4 separate regions of the Homo sapiens genome follow, and regions 2, 3 and 4 are each linked to region 1. Evidence: fine-mapped expression QTL. A gene starts in region 1. Each other region holds a variant in brackets. All regions are shown on one strand. Distances are between the middles of the regions.

Evidence for each region.
Region 2: its variant is fine-mapped to the expression of AKT1 in whole blood (TOPMed, PIP above 0.99).
Region 3: its variant is fine-mapped to the expression of AKT1 in whole blood (TOPMed, PIP above 0.99). The same link has a PIP of 0.9 or more in blood mononuclear cells, cerebellar hemisphere, cerebellum, lung, testis and thyroid.
Region 4: its variant is fine-mapped to the expression of AKT1 in whole blood (INTERVAL, PIP above 0.99).

Annotation. Positions count from the first base shown.
Region 1 is chr14:104,793,638-104,798,637 of GRCh38, reverse strand. AKT1 (AKT serine/threonine kinase 1) reads left to right here and starts at 2,890. Exons shown (of 15, transcript NM_001382430.1): 1 at 2,890-3,154. RefSeq lists enhancers at 196-968, 969-1,741, 3,783-4,424, 4,425-5,000 and silencers at 2,579-2,938, 3,119-3,168, 3,199-3,518.
Region 2 is chr14:104,824,464-104,829,686 of GRCh38, reverse strand. No RefSeq gene overlaps it. Among named protein-coding and RNA genes, the nearest start is that of VESTAR, 5.9 kb to the right of the region's middle. RefSeq lists enhancers at 1,250-2,035, 2,036-2,821 and a silencer at 2,971-3,140. The variant G/C (reference allele first, on the strand shown) is at 2,084.
Region 3 is chr14:104,770,679-104,775,784 of GRCh38, reverse strand. AKT1 (AKT serine/threonine kinase 1) reads left to right here. Exons shown (of 15, transcript NM_001382430.1): 6 at 1-133; 7 at 578-709; 8 at 782-847; 9 at 1,805-1,873; 10 at 2,205-2,330; 11 at 2,406-2,534; 12 at 2,693-2,907; 13 at 3,333-3,420; 14 at 4,938-5,040. Among named protein-coding and RNA genes, the nearest start is that of SIVA1, 20 kb to the right of the region's middle. The variant G/A (reference allele first, on the strand shown) is at 2,228.
Region 4 is chr14:104,847,014-104,852,236 of GRCh38, reverse strand. No RefSeq gene overlaps it. Among named protein-coding and RNA genes, the nearest start is that of CEP170B, 16 kb to the left of the region's middle. The variant A/C (reference allele first, on the strand shown) is at 3,007.

The DNA.
Region 1 (5,000 bases):
CATACCCTCCTTTCCAGCCCATTCCGGGTGTCCTGTGATTGTGGGATATTCCAGCACCTTCTGAAAGGGAAGGGGCTGTTTGGTCACTTGGTGCTTAAAAGTTGGCAGGACGCAAGTGGGTGTTCAGTAAATGTTTGTTGAGTGAATGTGTGACGGTTGCTTCTGTGAGTGATTACGATGGTCCCACCATCCCTAATCCTGACTCCTCTGTGGCAACATTCCAGCCCTGCCTGCCCACACCCCCAGCCCCTGAACCTTCAGAGCAAGTAGGGGTGGCCTGCCACACTGGGGCTCTGGGCAACAGGCTGACAGCTCCCCACTGCAGGCTGGGAGCAAGCACCCTAGCCTGCCCTGCCTGGCTGGCGGGACAGAGAGAGCCTGGACACTTAATGGGGGTTGTGGTACACAGGGAGGGTCAGGATGCTGCCTTCAGGAGCCTAGGGTAGGACCTGGAAGGAGGGCCCAGCTAGGAATGGGCTAGATGAAGGGGAGGGGACAGTGGGAGAGAAGCTCCTTATCCCTCTCAGGTCGGGATGTCTGGGTTCAAGTCCCTCCTGCCCCACACCGATCAGGGAAGGGGGGCTGTTCCAGGCAGAGACCGCCCAGAGTTGGTGCTGGGATCCTGGCCAGCCTGTAGTCCTCAGAGCCCCTGTGACTGGCTGGGTCTCAAGTGCAGGAATGACAGGACACCGTCACACAGCCACTGTCGCGGCGGTGGTGGTTCAGGCAGAACCTCTGCAGACTCAGGCGGCCATCTGGCCTGGGAGCTGCCCTGAGGCCCCGCCCTGCAGCTGCTGCTGGGACCTACACAGCCCAGGGCCCTCGAGTCCTGCCCCCGGCCAGCAGCTGCAGAAGGTGACAGGGCAGGAGGCCCCTGAGCTCTGGGAGGAGGCAGCCGTCGGGCCCTTCCCTGGTGCAGCAGTTTTTGTCGGAAACATCTGGCCACAGAGCACCTCAGCAGTCCCAGCAGCAGCCGTGGGGCTGGGTTCTCTCCTGACCATTCTGTCTGGGGTGGGAGGGGGTGTTCTTGAAGAGAGGACTCTGCTTTCCCTCTGGGACGCTGGAGGAGAGGGAGATGGCCCTGCCCACTGGGAGATCCCCGTCTTGGGGGAGGGCAGTTCATGCCAAGGTGAAGACAGGACTGGAGTGTGGGGCCCACAGTGGGTTGCAGGCACCAGCAGATGCCAGGGCACCAGGCTGGGAAGACTGGGAGGCCTCCTTGGAGACAGCCAGTGCAAAATAAGCAAGAGGTCCAACCACTTCAAGAACAGCCCGCAATGTCACTGCCTCTTCCATGAGAGGGTGCCCTGCTCCCTCCCACATCCCCAAGCCTCGGCCACTTGCTGGCCTTGTCTCATGGCCCTCTTACCCTCTGCTTCCTCCCTGAATTCCTTCCTCCATCCTTGCATGGCAGAGCCCAGGATGGTGGACAGATACCAGGAACTCTTCCTCGGGGAGCAGTGGGCAGGTGGGACAGTCCCAGAGGGAGCCCCAGGTGGCTCATGGTGCAGGTTTGCTGGGTGAGAGACAGACACCAGACGCCCAGGCTCTGGGGGCAACCCTTGTGTCAGGTATCCCACCCAAGCGGCGCAGACCACTGGGCCTCTGACTTGGCCCCCTGGAGGTGGGCCCTTCCTGGGGTTACAAAGTCTGAGCTGGGAGGGAGCAGAGGTGCTCAGGCGAGAGGCAGGAATGGGGAGTCCCCTGTCTGAGGAGCGAGTGCCCTCATGCAGGGGGAGAGAGTCCTTCTCTTGGTCAGCCCCAAGAGGCAGGGATGAAGCCCGAGTTTTGGCTGCAGACTCTGTCCTGAGCACTGGGCCGAACCTGCTGCCTCTGTCTGCATCTCCTCCCACCCCCTCCCCTGCTGCCAGCTGAACTCACTCTGGCTGAAAATAAAAATGCTCCCCCAACCCCAATACTTAGCAGCCTCAGGAAGGTAACTCACAAGAGTCTGTCTTTCACAAAAGGGTTATTATCAACTGTGGGCCTCTGGAATGGGGGAGGGGCAGTTGTCGGAGGAACTTCTGGCTAGGAAGGGGTCGGGGTGGCAGTCACCTGCACTCTCCTGTGAGTGTCCAGGAGAAAGGGGTCTGTGTCCCACTTACTCATTCCATACCCGGGCCATCTGCCTCCCAGTGGACTTCGGACTGGGTGTCCGGGCTGACCAAGTCCACCCAGCAGGGAGGGCTCTGGGCTGTCAGCTGTCACAGCCCACCCTAGACACCGCTCCTCCTCTGTCTGGTGTCTGCTCCCAGCTCAAGGTGGGAGCCAGGCAAGGTGTGCCCCTCTTCTCCCACTCCCCAGCAAAGTCCCCCTTTTGTGAGTGTAGCTGCCAGTACCTAGGTGAATGGTTGACTCCCCTCGGAGCCTTCCTGCTCCTTGGAGGCCCACCTCCAACTGACCTCCTGTCCTGGCATCCTCCCGCACTTCCCCCAGAGGCACAAGGTCTTGGGATTGGGCCTTTTAGGTCACTCTTGGCCGCCCCCTCCACGCCCCCCAGAGTGGGGCAGCCTGAAAGTCAACCTAAGCCACCCCCGCCCCGCGCGCGGAGGCAGAAGTCCGGGATTCGTCCCTGACCTGTCTCGGGCCCCTTCTGCTAGGGTCACGGCAGAGCGAGCCCAGAAGCGCCGGGTCACTTTACAGACGGGGAAACTGAGGCCAGAGAGGGCGTGGCCCCGGGACGGGCTGGCTGGTGGCCGGGCTCCGTTAGCGGCCCAGCCCAGGCCCCAGGTCGTCGGGAGCTGCCCCTCAGCCCGGCCGCGCGCTCCCCGAGCGCGCTCCGCCCTCGCCGCCGGCCGCGCGGTGGGGACGCCCCGGGCGGCGGAGGCGGATGTGGGCGGGCGGCTCCGGGCGCGGGGCGGGCGCGGGGCGGGGAGAGGGCGGGCCGGCGGCGGCGGCAGGACCGAGCGCGGCAGGCGGCTGGCCCAGCGCACGCAGCGCGGCCCGAAGACGGGAGCAGGCGGCCGAGCACCGAGCGCTGGGCACCGGGCACCGAGCGGCGGCGGCACGCGAGGCCCGGCCCCGAGCAGCGCCCCCGCCCGCCGCGGCCTCCAGCCCGGCCCCGCCCAGCGCCGGCCCGCGGGGATGCGGAGCGGCGGGCGCCGGAGGCCGCGGCCCGGCTAGGCCCGCGCTCGCGCCCGGACGCGGCGGCCCGGTGAGTCCCCGCCCGCCGTGGCCGCCCGGGCCTGGATTTCCTCCCCGCGGGCCGGGCCGCTTTGTTCGCGGCCGGTCGGGCCGGGGCGCGAGCCGCGGCGCCGCCAGAATGGAGGAGCGGGAGCAGGAAGTGGCCGAGCGGGCCTGGGCGGGGAGGGCGCGGGGCGCGCGGGCCCGGCCAAGGGAGGGCGGCCCCACGCCGGGCGCCGGGGGTGCAGGCTGCCGGCCCCAGCCTCCCTCATGACCTTGGGGAGGCCGCTCCGCCGGGCGAGGCCGGGACCCGAGAGAAGGGACGCCGCCGGGCCTGGAGCTGGGGCTCGGGGTGCCCCTGCGGGCCGTGGGGCTCCCCGGGCGCTGGGCCAGCGAGGCAGCCGGCGGAGGTGCCCCGGGGTTGGAGAAAGACTCGCCGCGGCCGGCCTTCAAGTTTGTGGGAGGGCCCCGGAAGGAGACTTCGTTTCCCACGGACGAAAAGTTGTACGTGGTGGCGGGGTACCCAGGCTAGCCACAAAGGACTGTGACCCTCCTGGGCCCCGGAACTGCTTCCTGTCTTGGGTGGGCCCTGGAGGTCCTGCCCGCCCATCCCAGAGGCCAAGGCTTGGAGGGCAGCTGGGGCTTGCCCCTTAGATTGAGTATCCTGGGGCGCTAGCGAGCTTGGTCCTGTCGGGACGGCCTCTGAGTGCTGCCTTGGTCAGCGGGTGAGCTTGGGCCCCTGCTCTGCAGCCAGAGGCCGCCCCACATTCACTCCTGGGTCTCTCGGCCTTGCTCCAGGTGGCCACTTCTTGACTGCTTTGAGTCCCTCATCCGAGCGAAGGGCGGACGGAGTCCGTTGGTGGGGGTCCGGTTGCCTCTCCCGGGAGCTGTGTAGACTTCTCATACACCAGGGTTCTGGAGGCAGATGGAGGAGCCCTTTCGAAAACAGAGTATTTTTTTTTAAGTTGTGACTTAATAATAGTAGCAAGAATATGTGCTTATGGTAAAGGCAGGCGGCAGGTACGGAGGCTGTGGGAAGTCGGGGTCCCTCCGCCCCCACAGGCAGCCCTGTGCTGGCCTGGTGTATACGTTTCTGTGCAGACGTACACCACCCTGTGTGAGCACAGATGTATTTTTACACATGGCTCTGGACAGCTGTCTGACTCTGTCAGCAGCAGGCCTTGGAGGGGCTCAGGCCCGTGTGGGGGTGGGGGGACATCCAGAGGTCTTTGAGTCCAGCCCTCTGCCTCCAGGCCACGCCCACTCAGTGTCGTCAGAGCCCCCTGTGCCTGAGGCGTGCGCGGCTCGGAGCCCTGCCCTCGGAGTCCTGCGGTGCCTTCCTCGAGTCTGGCCTGCTTTCCATCCTGCTAAGTACTTGGGGCATTTCCCTCTTTGGGTAAGGTGTGGTCTTCCCTGTCCTGGCATTAGACACAAGGCAGTGGGCCTTCCTGCCATTCTAAGTGTAGCTTAAGACAATCAGTGCAAAGCAACCCTTTGTGGGTGTCCAGCCCTTGCCTCGGGAGGCCAGAAAGGTGGCCTGGGGGGAGAGCGTCTAAGCTGGCTGTGGAAAGACCCATGTTGGGATCCATTCCACAGAGGTCGTCAGGGGTCTCTGCCTGGCCTGGAGGTCCCAGAGAGGACCCTCCTCCCCTCAGGAAGGCCCATCTGGAAGGGTAGCAGAGGACTGCTCACAGGAAGAGCATGCGAAGTGCTCTTTCTGGGGATGCCTGTAGTTGGTGATGTGGGAACTGGGTTTTGAGGGATGCCTAGGAGTTCATCCATCAGAGGGGAAATGAGGAAGCCATGCAGGATCAATGGATAAAGTGTGCTCAGGTGAGGGTTGGCTGGTGGGCCGCTGCAGGGCGGGGGCCTGTCCA
Region 2 (5,223 bases), 31 kb before region 1:
ATCTCAATCTTAAAAGTTTTTAAAAAGAGAATGAAAGAAGAGGAATTAGAGGCATGGCATGTAGACAGCATTCTGTGGGCGTCTTGCAGTAAAGATCTATGCCTTTCTTTTCTTTTCTTTTCTTTTTTTTTAATTGAGACAAGGTCTTGCTGTGTCACCCAGGCTAGAGTGCAGTGATATCATCATGGCCCGGACTCCCAGGCCCAACCCAAGGGATCCTCCCACTGTAGCCTCCCCAGTGGCTGGGACTACAGGCCCATGCCACCATGCCTGGCTGATTTTCCCTTAATTTTTTTGTTGTTGTTTTTAAAGAAATGAGGTGTCACTATGTTGCCCAGGCTGGTCTCCATCTCAAATAAATAAATAAAATACCACAGACTGAGTAATTTATAAATACTAAAAATGTATTCCTCACAGTTTTAGGGGCGGGGAAGTCCTAGGTCAAGGCCAGCAGATGTGGTGTCTGGGAGGGATTACACCCTCTTGCTGTGCCCTCACATAGAGGAAGGGGCCAAAAGGCCTAAAGAAAAGAACCCGCTGCCTCAAGCCCTTGTGTAAGAGCACTAATCCCGTCCGCCCTGCCCTGGTCACCTCCCAAAGGCCCTACCTCTTAATACCATCACTTTGCAACTTAAGTTCCAATATATGAATTTTGGATGGACACAAACATTCAAACCATAGCACACACAAAATAAGCTTAAATATTTTATTTTTTGAGACAGGGTCTTGTTTTGTCACCCAGGCTGGAGTGCAGTGGCCCCATCTCAGCTCACTGCAACCTCTGCCTCCTGGGCTCAAGCAATCCACTCACCATGGCCTCCCAAAGTGCTGGGACTACAGGCGTGAGCCACTGCACCTGGTCTTTTAAAATTTTTTTTTTTTTTTTGAGATGGAGTCTCCCTCTGTCGCCCAGGCTGGAGTGCAGTGGCGCGATCTCAGCTCACTGCAAGCTCTGCCTCCCAGGGTCATGCCATTCTCCTGCCTCAGCCTCCCGAGTAGCTGGGACCACAGGCACCCGCTACCACGCCTGGCTAATTTTTTGAATTTTTAGTAGAGACGGGGTTTCACGTGTTAGCCAGGATGGTCACAATCTCCTGACCTCGTGATCCGCCTGCCTTGGCCTCCCAAAGTGCTGGGATTACAGGCGTGAGGCTGAGGCAGGAGAAAGGTGTGAACCCGGGAGACGGAGCCTGCAGTGAGCCAAGATCGTGTCACTGCACTCCAGCCTGGGCGACACAGCGAGACTCTGTCTCAAAAAAAAAAAAAAAAAGAGTGACCACTGGTCGTCCTCACTGCTACACTCCCACCAGCACCATGAGAGTTTACAAATGCCATGGCAACATCAGGAAGTTACCCCTTATGGTCTAAAAAGGAGAGTCATGAATAATACACCCTTTGTTTATCATATAATAAAAATAAAACCATAAAAATGGTCACCCAGCAGCCCTCTGGCCCGCTCTATGGAGTGGCCATTCTTTTATTCCTCTAATTTCTTAATAAATTTGCTTTCGCTTTACTTTGTGGACTCGCCCTGAATTCTTTCTTGCGTGAGATCTAAGAACCCTCTCTTGGGATCTGGATCAGGACCCCTTTCTGGTAACCCCATGAACCACAGACTCACTCTCAGCCCTGGATCCCCATGCCTCTGCCACTGAGGCCTGAGGGACCACCTCTCCCGCCCCTGCCCTGAGCACTCTGGTGTCTCCGGCCAGCCCTTTCTCTCCAAGCCAGGCTCCTCCCACCCTCCCTGCCTTCTCCAGCCGTGTACCAGACACGAACCTGTGGAAGGAGAGCCCGCAGCTCCTGGGGCACCTGCATTCAGCCCAGCCCCTCCTCCCTGCCCCGTCCCTGGCCTCCCCCAGCCCCTGGCGGCTTCTTCTCTGCGGCCTCCTCCTAGTGGCTGGCTGAGCAAAGGACAGGAGGTACTTAGCCTTATCATCTGCCCTGCCCCTCCAGGACTGCAGGCGCCAAGCCCCCTGCACGCCCCTACTTCCCCGATGGGACCTCCCTGCTCCCAGCCAGTCAGCCTCCCAGGGAAGCTTAAGGCTGCTGCCTGGCTCCAGGGCGACGGCTGTTGGTGCTG[G/C]GGCCCAAGACGCAGGAGAGATTCAGACAGCACTTGGGGCCACACAAGACAGTGCCTGGGACGTGTGAAGCACCGCCCTCCCCTGGACGTGAGTCCACCCCAGGGCTTCAACGCCAGCCTGTGCCCACCTCACGCAGGCCTTTCTCCGCGGCTCAGGTGCTTCCTCCCCCCCACCGAAGCGCTGGTGCTAAGGTCACCGCCCTGCCCCACCGTCACTGTTCACTGATACCAGTCCTGGGCGCCCTCCTCGCAGCCCCTGCCCCACTCCACACCGGATCGACCACCAAGGCCTCTGCCTCCTACGCATCCCCAACGCCTTTTCCTTCCTTCCCGCGGACCTGCGGGGCGGGGGCGGGCCTGGCGTTTTTGAGCTGGACCCGAGCAGCCTCCCGGTGACTCCCCTGCTGTTGCCACCTCCTCATTCTCCACTCAAGAGACAAAGCGACCTCCCCGAATGCAAACCCGACCAGCCGCACTCCTTAAAATCCTTCGACGCTTCCCATTTCTCCCAGGGAAAAACTCCCCCACTCCTCCCCACCTGTGTCCGCGGCCCCTGCAGGACTGAGAGTCCGAGGTCTCCGCGCCGTCACCTCCCCCGACGCCCTTCCAGCTTCCCTGGGAGCCCGGGGCCATCCTCCGAGCCCACCCGCCCCCTCACCCCCGCAGACCCCCCTGCAGACCCTAGCAGTCCCCTGCGGCCCGTCTCGCCTTGCGGACGAAGCCGGGGCGCCCGAGGTCTCCGCCCTCTGAGCTTGCGTCCCCATCCCCAGGGGCCCCCAGCACAGTTCCTGGGGCAGGGCTGGAGCTCATCAGCCCCGGGACGGAAGGTTAGATTCCCAGGATCCACCGTGTCCAAGGGTTGCATTCCCACTCGAGCCCCGCCCCTCCGGCAGCCCCGCCCCCTCCGGCAGCCCCGCCCCCTCCGGCAGCCCCGCCCCTCCGGCAGCCCCGCCCCTCCGGCAACCCCGAAAAGCAGAGCGCGGCGGGAGCCATTGCGAAGTTTGCCGCCAGGGGGCGCGCGGGGAGCGGGGCGCAGGGCTGGCGGGGAGTGCGGAGCCGGGCGCGGGGAGAGGGCGGGACGGGTGCTCCTCCCGGATGCCCAGGGCGCCCAGCGCCGCGGGAAAGGCGCCTCCCCAGCAGGACGCCAGGCTCTGGGGCTAGCGCTCCTCGCCGCAGAGAGCTTGGGGCTGGCCACGGGTGGCCTGAGGATGACTTGGGACCGCCCCCCGCTCCAACGCCAGCTGTCGCAGTCTGCTCCGCTTCCCAGAAGGACCAGACCTTTCGCTTAGGGATTTCATTTTGGGAACTCCCTTTAAAGCGCTTCATTCATGCCGCAGTGCCTTGAGGGCGAGGATTGGCCACACCCTCCTAGGGACAGTGCTCACCCCGGCCTGAGCTTAAGAACAGGAGTTCCCCAGCCTCGTCAGACGCCCCACCTAGCCCTCCCAGCCCACCCCCCGCATATCCCCCTGCTCTGTGGTCTTGCACTGCCGCAGCGCTCCCACCACCGCCTTGCCCGTGTGCCCTCCAACCAGCGCCAGGGGTTGCGGTCAGAGCTCAAGCCCGATCTGGTCTCTCCGGGGATCAAACCTTCCTGCAGCTCCCATCGCACTCGGAGTGAACATCCAAGACCCCAGGAGAGCTCCATAAGGCCTCCACACCTTCCTCTCCCTCTGGCTCCCCTCCCTGCCGGTGCTCCGGGATCTCCTGCCACTTCGCTACGCCCCAGCACGCCCCAAGCCCCACATCAGGCTTCTGCTCCTGCCAGTCCCTCCGCCCCAGCCATTTCCTGCCTCTGCTCAAATATTCCCAGTCAGCGAGGCCATCTCCGCCAATCCTCAGACTGCCGGTATCTGTCATTCCGATTCTTTTCTTTCCTTAAGAGACGGAGTCTGACTCTGTCGCCCAGGCTGGAGTGCAGTGGCACCATCTCGGCTCACTGCAAGCTCCGCCTCCCGGGTCCCGCCATTCTCCTGCCTCAGCCTCCTGAGTAGCTGGGACTACAAGCACCCACCACCACGCCTGGCTAATTTTTTTGTATTTTTAGTAGAGATGGGGTTTCACCGTGATAGCCAGGACGGTCTCTATCTCCTGACCTCGTAATCTGCCCGCCTTGGCCTCCCAAAGTGCTGGGATTACAGGCGTGAGCCACCGTGCCCGGCCCGATTCTTTACTTTTCTATTGGCTTTTAAGCTGGGGAACCTGCCACCTGCCTTCATGAATCCCACCCAGAAGAGTCTTGGGGACTTCTAGAATCATCTGGAGTCCACAAATAACCATCTCCATCAGACACCAGAAATCCTGCAGAGTGCACCTCCACCCAGTTCCTTGTCTGTGCCTCTGCATCTCTGTCCTCACAGTGGCCCCTATCCCTAAAACCAGCCCAGGTCAAAGCCTCTCCAGTCTTGACTTCTCATCCACAGGACAGGCCCACAGACCCCTGTGATCAAGATTTCCAAACCTCCCAGAGTTTGCTCAGGTAGCAACCCTGGGGGATCCTCCATCCATCCAATTATCTTCCTAGCCAACCATCTTTAAACATCCATCTTTCCACCACCTATGCATCTGTCCTTAACCCCATCATACCATCTATTCAACCATCTGTCCAACCATCCATCCATCCACCCAACCAACCATCCATCAATCCATCCAACCATTCAACTGTCCATCCAACCTATCATCTACCAACCATCTATCCATCCATCAGTCCACCATCAATCCATCCATCCAATCATCCCTATCCATCCAACCATTCACCTATCCTACCATCCATCCATCAATTCATCCAACCATTCACCATCCAACCATACATCCACCCACCCAACCATGCAACCATCCACCAGCCTACGATCCATCCAAACATTCATCCAACCATCCACCATCTTACCATCCATCCATTAATCTATCCATCCAACCATTCACCATTCTACTACCCATCTAACCATTTACCTAAACATCTACCATCCTACCACCCATCTATCCATCCACCATTCTATCATCCAGCCAATATGCATTCATCTAACCCTCCATCCATCCATCCATCCATCAATCCATCCATCCAACCACCCACCATCCTACTGTCCATCCAACCATTTATCTACCCATCTACCACCCCACTGTTCATCCATCCATCCAACATC
Region 3 (5,106 bases), 23 kb after region 1:
CGCCATCCAGACTGTGGCTGACGGCCTCAAGAAGCAGGAGGAGGAGGAGATGGACTTCCGGTCGGGCTCACCCAGTGACAACTCAGGGGCTGAAGAGATGGAGGTGTCCCTGGCCAAGCCCAAGCACCGCGTGGTGAGGCCTGTCCCCACTTCTGCCTGTGCCTGGGGCTGCCTTGGACTGTGGAGGGCTGGGTGGGTCATGGGGTCCCAGCTCGGCCCAGGAGACACTCAGCACTCCACGGCATCTCCACCTAGGCCGGTTTTCCATGTAGGGCGCAGCTGCTTCCCAGGTGGGTCCTCTTCCCCATGTCAGAGGAAAACTGGGGTTGCTGAGCCCTGCCAGGCTTGGGCAATGTTACCCCACCCTTCCCTGAACCCCATGCTCTGAGCTGGGGCCGCAGCCATGTGTTCCCTGTAAGCCTGGACTCCCCGCTGAGCCCAGTAGGCCACCAGGTGTGAAGTGGACGCCTCTCCTGGCTCTGCCTCCGACTCTGGGGCCCCTCATGCCACCCCACGCATGCCGACCAGCTGGGCACTGTTGGCAGCGCCGCTTGCTGACCCTGGTGCCTGCCCATAGACCATGAACGAGTTTGAGTACCTGAAGCTGCTGGGCAAGGGCACTTTCGGCAAGGTGATCCTGGTGAAGGAGAAGGCCACAGGCCGCTACTACGCCATGAAGATCCTCAAGAAGGAAGTCATCGTGGCCAAGGTGGGGCCGGGGCGGTGGGGCAGGGTGGAGATGAGGGTGCGGGGTGGCAGCTCACCCAGCCCTGCTTTACAGGACGAGGTGGCCCACACACTCACCGAGAACCGCGTCCTGCAGAACTCCAGGCACCCCTTCCTCACAGTGAGTGGGAGCCCAGATGGGGCTGAAGGGCTGGGGCCAGGTAGCGACTCCTGGGGCTGTCTCTAGGGGACGATGTCCTGTCTTCTTGGGCACGTGAGGGCTTTACACACCGTGGACTCCGCCGCTGGTGAGACAGGCCTGCCCTGGAGGGTCAGGCTGTGGAGGTGCCCAGTGTGGGCTAGGGGCTGTGCTCGCTGCTCCCGTGTGCGGGCAGGTGGGTGGGGCAGGTGGCCCTGGTCTTCCTTGCACTCTGCCGAGGCTCCAGGAGGCCCCAGCTCCCCATGCCCTGCAGCCCTGCCTGCCAGGCTTTTGTTGAGGCCCGGGCTCTGTCCTGCAGAACCTGTTCTGGGGACTTGGCCCAGGAGGTATTTACTGTGAAGGGGGCCAGGGTCCAGCCACTTGGTTAGTTCCAGGTCACTGTGTTTGGGGACGATTCTCCTGCAGATGGGGCCTTTGCTTTAAAAGCACAGTCGCCTGTGGTGGAAGGCGGGAGGGTGGGTCTCGCCTGGGAGGGTGTGTCCTCCCTTTGCGAAGGCCCTGGTGCTGGGAGCACTGTCCCCTGCTGAGGTCCCAACTCACCCTGGAGGACCTGAGCCCAGGCCACCTTGCTCACCTTTCAAACACTCCTTGGCACCTCAGGGGCTGCCGGGGCCCAGCCTGATGGTGGCGTGGCATGAGGCAGTGTGGTGTGGGGCAGTGTGGTGTGGGGCAGCGTGGCATGGGGGCAGTGTGATGTGGGGGTGTATGGTGTGGGGCAGTGTGATGGGGTGTGTGGTGTGGGGCAGTGTGGTATCGGGCGGTGTGGTATCAGGCAGCGTGGTGTCGGGCAGTGTGGTGTGGGGCTACGGGCGGTGTGGTATCAGGCGACGTGGTATCAAGCAGCGTGGTGTCGGGCAGCGTGGTGCGGGGCTGCCGTCCTGCCTGTGGGGCCGCAGTTCCAGCTCCCCTTCCTTGCAGGCCCTGAAGTACTCTTTCCAGACCCACGACCGCCTCTGCTTTGTCATGGAGTACGCCAACGGGGGCGAGGTAGGGGCTGGGGCTGCGGGGGATGGACTTCGCGGCCTGTGGGCCGCCCATGGTGGGGCCGGTCCTTCCCGGAGCCTCGGCTACTCTCCATGGCACCAGACGGTGCTCCCTGCTGGGTGGGTGGTGTGATGCCTGCCCAGGCAGCTGCCTGCTGTGGGGTGACTTGTTCCTGCTGAGTTAGGGCTTCTGAGACTTTCCAGGCCCCCGTGCCCTCTGGTGGCTGGTCCCTTCCCTGTGCAATGCCGAGACCCGGTCTGAGAAACCCCAGCCCTGCAGGCCATGGGGGCAGAGGCCCGAGCCACGGCTGTGCCTCAGGTTGCGCCTCCCGCAGCTGTTCTTCCACCTGTCCCGGGA[G/A]CGTGTGTTCTCCGAGGACCGGGCCCGCTTCTATGGCGCTGAGATTGTGTCAGCCCTGGACTACCTGCACTCGGAGAAGAACGTGGTGTACCGGGACCTCAAGGTGCGCTGGCGGGCAGGCAGGGGGGCAGGGCCCTGGGGGCCTGGCGGCACTGACCTGAGGCCACCTTTCCCCTAGCTGGAGAACCTCATGCTGGACAAGGACGGGCACATTAAGATCACAGACTTCGGGCTGTGCAAGGAGGGGATCAAGGACGGTGCCACCATGAAGACCTTTTGCGGCACACCTGAGTACCTGGCCCCCGAGGTGTGCGCCCCACCTGCGTGCATACGCGTTGCTGCGTCCCCACGTCCTGAGCACACGCAATGCTGTGTCCTCTCTGTGCCCCAAGCACGTCACACCTCCCCCGGCAGTGTCCCGGACACCCCTTGATGCCGAGTCCTGCCCATCTGCCACCCGTGCAGGTGCTGGAGGACAATGACTACGGCCGTGCAGTGGACTGGTGGGGGCTGGGCGTGGTCATGTACGAGATGATGTGCGGTCGCCTGCCCTTCTACAACCAGGACCATGAGAAGCTTTTTGAGCTCATCCTCATGGAGGAGATCCGCTTCCCGCGCACGCTTGGTCCCGAGGCCAAGTCCTTGCTTTCAGGGCTGCTCAAGAAGGACCCCAAGCAGAGGTGAGGGCCGCCCATCCCAGCTACAGGCTACACCTCCATCCCCTCATCCCCAGGCTGCACCTGCCCCTGCGCCAGGCGGTCCTGGCACCTCCCAGACTACACTGATAGCCAAAGCTTGATGTCCTTGGCCAGGGCTGATCTCCAAAGCCTCAGGCCCAAGCAGAGTGGCGGGCAGGCCGGGGTCAGTTGGGCCTCTGTCCCCAACCCTGCAGCCTGCACCCACCCACTCAGGAAGCCCCTGCCCTGCCGTGAGCTCTGTGGTGCTTTGCTACCCACAGCTGCTCAGGGACGCTGCACCACCGGCTCCCCTCCCTGGCCCCGGAACGTCCTGTCTGGCGGGCCCTACATCACAGGAGGAAGGGGCCTGAACCCAGGGCCTGGGCAGGTGGCGGTACCGACACTGTGGCCTTGTTTCCTGCCTGCAGGCTTGGCGGGGGCTCCGAGGACGCCAAGGAGATCATGCAGCATCGCTTCTTTGCCGGTATCGTGTGGCAGCACGTGTACGAGAAGAAGGTGCGGCTGCTCCCCGCATATTCACGCGCACGCATGCTCCCCACATATCCACACTCACGCATGCACGTGGCACGCTCGCCAGATTTCCCACACACTCGCCCTCACCTCAGGAGCCTGCTGCAGTCCTGGTACAAGGAGGGCCTTGCTGCACCAACCTCAGCGCCTGGTGCTCAGAGGCTCTGGCACTGCCGGGTTCCACCAGGAAACTGGCCTGGTCCTCATTTCCTCCTCCCCTCGGAGGTGTGTCACACTCTGAGTTTCCTCCTCCCCTCGGAGGTGTGTCACACTCTGAGTGCCAGCCTTGGGGTTCCCTTCCCTGACGCTGTGCAGTGAAGGCTGGCTGGTGGTGGACCAGGGGTGCTGCCCCTTGGCCTCCACGAGTTCCTCCTGTTTGACCTCAATCCCTTCTGCCGCAAGGAGAGCCCAGCCCTATTTCTGGCTGTGCAGGGACAGGGACAGCACCTACTTTTCTGGCACATGGGGGAGTCCGCCCTGGAGGGAGGCAGCTCTTTCTGCATGAGTCGCCATCCTGGGTGCTCATCTTTCAGGGACCCTAGGAGCCCTGGCCATCACCCCAGCTGATGGGGTCTGCCAGCTGGGTTCGGAAGCCTGCACTCTGAGATGCTGGGTGCCCTGTCACCAGGTGTGCTTCTGCCCCGTTCCCAGCCTGCCCCTCCCCTGAATGCCTGTCCTAGGCTGTGTGCAGCTGGTCGGGCTGGGCAGCCCTGGGACCCAGCTGGGCACCTGTTCTCCCATTAACACAGGGTGCCCTGGTCCTGGTCCCCGTTCCTGCCTTGAGGCCTGCCACCCTCCTGCCCTGCCCTCCAAGGGTATGGGGGGCCTGGGCAGTGCTCAACCTCTGCCCAGCCTTGACCAGAGACCTTGCTAATTGACAATGGACAATGCTGGTGCCCAGCCCAGACTCTGGGGTGGGGCAGTGCTTGAGGGGGTCCTTGACTGTGGGACCTGAGGGGCTCTCTGGCAGCTCCTCACGTGTGCACATCACCTTATAGTCACCCTTCATCCTGGGTCATTGAGAGTCCTGTCTGCAGCCAGATGCCAGCAGGCTGTGGTCCTGTAGTCCCTGAGCCATGGAGGCAGGGTGGGCTCATCCTGTGCACCTTGTTCCACAGTCTCCCTCTTTCCCAATTTACAAGAAGACCAATAAGAAAAATAAGAAAACAAGAAAGAAAAAGGAAAAATAAAGTTATCACCTCCTGGTAGCAGGGAGGGTCTCTCAGAGCTGGGCTGCACTACCTCCTGTCGCCTGCTGGGGCTGCTGTGAGGGCAGCTTTGCGTCTCAGCTGTTGAGGGTTGTCTCCGTGCTCCTGCACCCCTCATGTCCCTCCCTCCCAGAGCTGCCTCTGTGGGGGGCTGGTGGCTTGCTGCTCTCTGACATCAGTCCTGCCTGGAGACCCCTTGGAGATCCAGGTGCTTTGAAGGTCTTGAGCACACTTGAGGGTGTGCTGGGAGTGGGGAGCGAAGCTCATGACTGTCCCGTCTGCCCACCTCTGCAGCTCAGCCCACCCTTCAAGCCCCAGGTCACGTCGGAGACTGACACCAGGTATTTTGATGAGGAGTTCACGGCCCAGATGATCACCATCACACCACCTGACCAAGGTGAGGGGCCACTGCCTGCCCCCGCCCACTCCCTTTTCTCTCCACACTCAGAGAGGCCTGCAGTGT
Region 4 (5,223 bases), 53 kb before region 1:
TTCTGTTTGATGTGTTAATTCGTGTACACGCTGCATGCCAGCCGCCACTGATGGCCGCCTTAACGGCGGTGCTGACCACGGCTGCTTTGTCAGCACAGGTGAAGCTGTTGAAACGCCTCTCAGAGGGGCCTCTGGTGGCACTGCCCATCTCTTCCCTCAGCCTCTCCTGAGTGAGGCCTGCTGCGGGGTTTCCGAGAGTTCCCTCAGGAAGCGGCAGAAGGGAGCAGATGCCCGAGGTCAGGTGCCTGAGAGACGGTAGCATTTGGACAGCCCAGTAGCCTTTCCCATGGTCACGCAAATTCTCCTGAAACTCAGGCAGGGTCTGAAGAAACACAAGATGGCACAAAGCCATCCCCAGAGCCGTGGGTCCCACGTGGTTAAATGTGGAAAACACTCGCTGAGGGTCATAGTGGAAAACAGCGGCTGGAGATGGGGTCTTCCTGTTGGCTGCCGAGACGGTGACATCTACAGGTGTTGAGTGGCTAAAAAAATGTATTCCTTGCAATGCCTCACAGACATGGTAACGTATGCACATATGCGTAGTGGCCTGCCAGGGCTGGTAAGATAACATCCCTTCTATATTCAGGGAGATGAAATCTGATCTTTTTTTTTTTTTTTTTTTTTTTGAGACAGAGTCTTGCTCTGTCACCCAGGCTGGAGTGCAGTGGCGTGATCTTGGCTCACTGCAACCTTCGCCTCCCAGGTTCAAGCGATTCTCCTGCCTCAGCCTCCTGAGTACCTGGGACTACAGGTGCCCACCACCACGCCTGGCTAATTTTTTGCATCTTTAGTAGAAACAAGGTTTCACTGTGTTGCCCAGACTGGTCTCAAACTCCTGAGCTCAGGCAATCCACCCGCCTCAGCCTCCCAAAGTGCTAGGATTACAGGTGCCAGCCACCGCGCCTGGCCAGAATCTGATCTTTTGATGGATAGTTGCAGAAAAGTCTTCTGCTATATTCCTAATCAAAGTCTTCTTAGAATATTGAAATATCACCTTTTTAGTAAGCGAAATGCCTTTTCATTTTATCCAAAACAACACAGATAGAACTATTTGTTTCATGTGTCAGATTTTATATTCCTTTCATATCACTACATTTCCCCTTGTGTTTTTTCACTCATGCACATGCAGTCTTTGTACTTTTTTTTTTTTTTTTTTGAGATGGAGTTTCATTCTTGTTGTCCAGGCAGGAGTGCAATGGCATGATCTTGGTTCACTGCAACTTCCGCCTCCCAGGTTCAAGTGATTCTCCTGCCTCAGCCTCCCGAGTAGCTGAGATTACAGGCGTGCACCACCACGCCCGGCTAATTTTGTATATTTAGTAGAGATGGGGTTTTCAAGTTGGCCAGGCTGGTCTCCAACTCCTGACCTCAGGTGATCCACCTGCCTCTGCCTCCCAAAGTGCTGGGATTACAGGTGTGAGCCACCACACCTGGCCTGTGCCTGGCTAATTTTAAAGTTTTTTTGTAGAGATGAGGTCTTGCTATGTTACCCAGGCTGGTCTTGAACTCCTGACCTCAATAGATCCTCCTGCCTTAGCCCACAAAGTGCTGAAATTACAGGTGTGAGCCACCATGCCTGGCCCTAATTTTAATAATTTCTTATATCAATCAAATCATCCAGTAGATCATTCTTCCTGTCTACCAGGCAAATCTATAAGTACTCATTATCATTTATTAGGCCATTTAATTCTTTTTTTTTTTTTTTTGAAACGGAGTTTCTTTCTTGTTGCCTAGGCTGGAGTACAATGGCGTGATCTTGGCTCACTGTAACCTCCACCTCCCAGGTCCAAGCGATTCTCCTGCCTCAGCTTCCCAAGTAGCTGGGATTACGGGCATGCACCACAACACCTGGCTAATTTTGTATTTTTAGTAGAGACGGGGTTTCTCCGTGTTGGTCAGGCTGGTCTCGAACTCCTGACCTCAGGTGATCTGCCTGCCTCGGCCTCCCAAAGTGCTCGGAGCACAGGCGTGAGCCACCGCGCCCGGCCCCATTTAATTCTTTATAGTAATCAGGAACCTCTATGCTCTCAAAAATAAAGCTTCCCACAAAGCAAAAACACCTACTTGTGGCTGTGGTAAATAACAAGTATCAGACACCAAAAGCAACTCTAAAAACTAGTTTAAAAACAACAACAGGCCGGGCACGGTGGCTCACGCCTGTAATCCCAGCACTTTGGGAGGCTGAGGCGGGTGGATCACGAGGTCAGGAGTTCAAGACCAGCATGACCAACATGGTGGAACCCCGTCTCTACTAAAAATACAAAAAATTAGCCAGGCGTGGTGGCAGGTGCCTGTACTCCCAGGTACTTGGGAGGCTGAGGCGGGAAAACGGTGTGAACCCAGGAGGTGGAGCTTGCATTGAGCCGAGATCGAGCCATTGCATTCCAGCCTGGGCGACAGAGCAAGACTCTGTCTCAAAACAACAGCAACAACATAACAGCTGTTTGAAGGCATTGGAGAGCAACCAAGGCAGCCAGGACTTGAGGGACTGAGAACCTGAGAAAAGGGAATCACATTGAGATGAGCCTGGCAGGTACTTAGAGACCAAGCAGAAAGTGGCAGCTCAGAGCTTCTGGGATTCTCACAGGCCTGGGGAGGCAAATATTGGCATTGGAAGCTACCATTCAATCTTCTGTGCCTCTTTTCCCATTAAGATATTTGCCAATCTCTAAGCTGTTTTGGGTAGGAGGTTACAAAGTCAAGCAGAAAATGGCAGCTGAAAGCCCATGAAATTAAAGCTTTAGCTGTCTGATGGTGTTATGGAGAAAGGAATTGGAGTCCAGGCATCAAGGAGAAGGGACCCTGTAAAAACACTCAGCCTTTCAGGTAAGGTCCTTGGAATGTGACACTCCAGCAAGCTAGAAACCAAATAAACCTTCCCACCCCTACTCAATTTCTCACACACGGGCCAGGCACAGTGGCTCATGCCTGTAATCTCAGTACTTAGGGAGGCCGAGGTGGGAGGATCGCTTGAGTCTAGGAGCTTGAGACAAGCCTGGGAGACAT[A/C]GTGAGACCCCGAGACCTCATCTCATTTTTAATCTTTTTTTTTTCTTTTTTTTTTTTTTGAGACAGGATCTCACTCTGTCACCCAGGCTGGAGTGCAGTGGCACAATCAACTCCTGACCTCAAATGATCCAACTGCCTTGGCCTCCCAAAGTGCTAGGATTACAGGCATGAGCCACCATACCTGGCTGTGAGACCTCATCTCTACAGAAAATAATAAAATTAGTGGGATGTGGTGGTGTGCAGCTGTAGTCCCAGCTACTCTGGAGGCTGAGTCGGGGGATCCCTTGAGCCAGGCAGTTCAAGGCTGCAGTGAACTATGTATGACTGTGCCACTGCACTCCAGCCTGGGCCACACAATGAGACTGTAAAGAACTGGAGGCTCTAACCACACGTGGCTACTGCACTAGTAGCTGGTGCCTAAAACTTGGATTTTTAGGCCGGGTGTGGTGGCTCACACCTGTAATCCCAGCACTTTGGGAGGCCGAGGCGGGCGGATCACAAGGTGAGGAGATCAAGACCATCTTGGCTAACACGGTGAAACCCCATCTCTACTAAAAATACAAAAAAATTAGCCAGGCGTGGTGGTGGGTGCTTGTAGTCCCAGCTACTCAGGAGGCTGAGGCAGAAGAATGGCGTGAACCCGGGAGGCGGAGCTTGCAGTGAGCCGAGATGGAGCCACTGCACTCCAGCCTGGGCGACAGACAGAGCGAGACTCCGTCTCAAAAAAAAAAAAAAAAAAAAAGGAAGCTGTCAGTAGCCAGAAGTTAAGAAATGGAGTCCAACTCCTCAATACAAACTACCAGCTTACAGGGAATGCAGAGGCACAGATGCATGTTAAACAGTAGCAGGGGGCACAGCTGGCAAAATCCAGGCTGGTGAGCTACAGGGGAACAGCCTGGTTTCCTTTGCTAGAGGGGAAGAAAGGACGAATAAGAAAAGTGTGGATTAAGAAGACCTGACTTATCAACCAGTCACAAAGTGGCAAAACTGGGTTCCAATTCAAACAAACGTTTACAAAACAATTGGAAAAGTGAACATTGACTTGATATTTAGTAATATTGGCCGGGCGTGGTGGCTTGTGCCTCTAATCCCAACACTTTGGGAGGCCGTGGCAGGCAGATCATGAGGTCAAGAGATTGAGACCATCCTGGCCAACGTGTTGAAACCCCGTCTCTACTAAAAATACAAAACATTAGCTGGGTGTGGTGGCGGGCACCTGTAGTCCCAGCTACTCGGGCGGCTGAGGCAGGAGAATCACTTGAACCCGGGAGGCGGAGGTTGCAGTGACGATAAAACCATTTCACAATTATAAAAGGGTCAATTGAATAGGAAGATCTAACAATCATAAATCTGTAGACACCTAATAACACAGCGCTGAAACATAGAAAACAAAATCTGATAGAACTAAAAAAGTAGCAGCAAATCCACAACTACTGTGGGAAATTTTAAAACATCTCTCTCGGTAACTGATAGACTAAATGGACAAAATACCGGTAGAGATACAATATATTTAAACCACAAGTTGTTGTTGTTGTTGTTGTTGTTTTTGAGCCGGAGTCTTGCTCTGTCACCCAGGCTGGAGTGCAGTGGCACCATCTCGGCTCCCTGCAAGCTCCGCCTCCCGGGTTCACGCCATTCTCCTACCTCAGCCTCCCCAGTAGCTGGGACTACAGGCGCCCGCCACCATGTCCAGGTAATTTTTTGTATTTTTAGTAGAGACGGGGTTTCACCGCATTAGCCAGGATGGTCTCGATCTCCTGATCTCGTGATCTGCCCACCTCGGCCTCCCAAAGGGCTGGGATTACAGGCGTGAGCCACCGCGCCTGGCCCTCTTTTTTTTTGAAACAGAGTCTCGTTCTGTCACCCAGGCTGGAGTGCAGTGGGGTGAGATCTCAGCTCACTGCAACCTCCATCTCCTGAGTTCAAGAGATTCTCGTGCCTCAGCCTCCTGAGTAGCTGTAATTACAGGCACCCACCACCACACCTGGCTAATTTTTGTATTTTTATTAGAGATGGGGTTTTGCCATGTTGGCCAGGCTGGTCTTGAACTCCTGACCTCAAGTGATCCTCCCAAAATGCTAAGATTACAGGTGTGAGCCCCCGCTTCTGGCCCTGGTTTTTCTTTTTCTCTCTCTCTCTCTCTTTCTTTCTTTCTTTCTTTTTTTTTTTTTAAGAGACAGAGCCTCGCTCTGTTTCTCAGGCTGGAGTAGAGCCCTG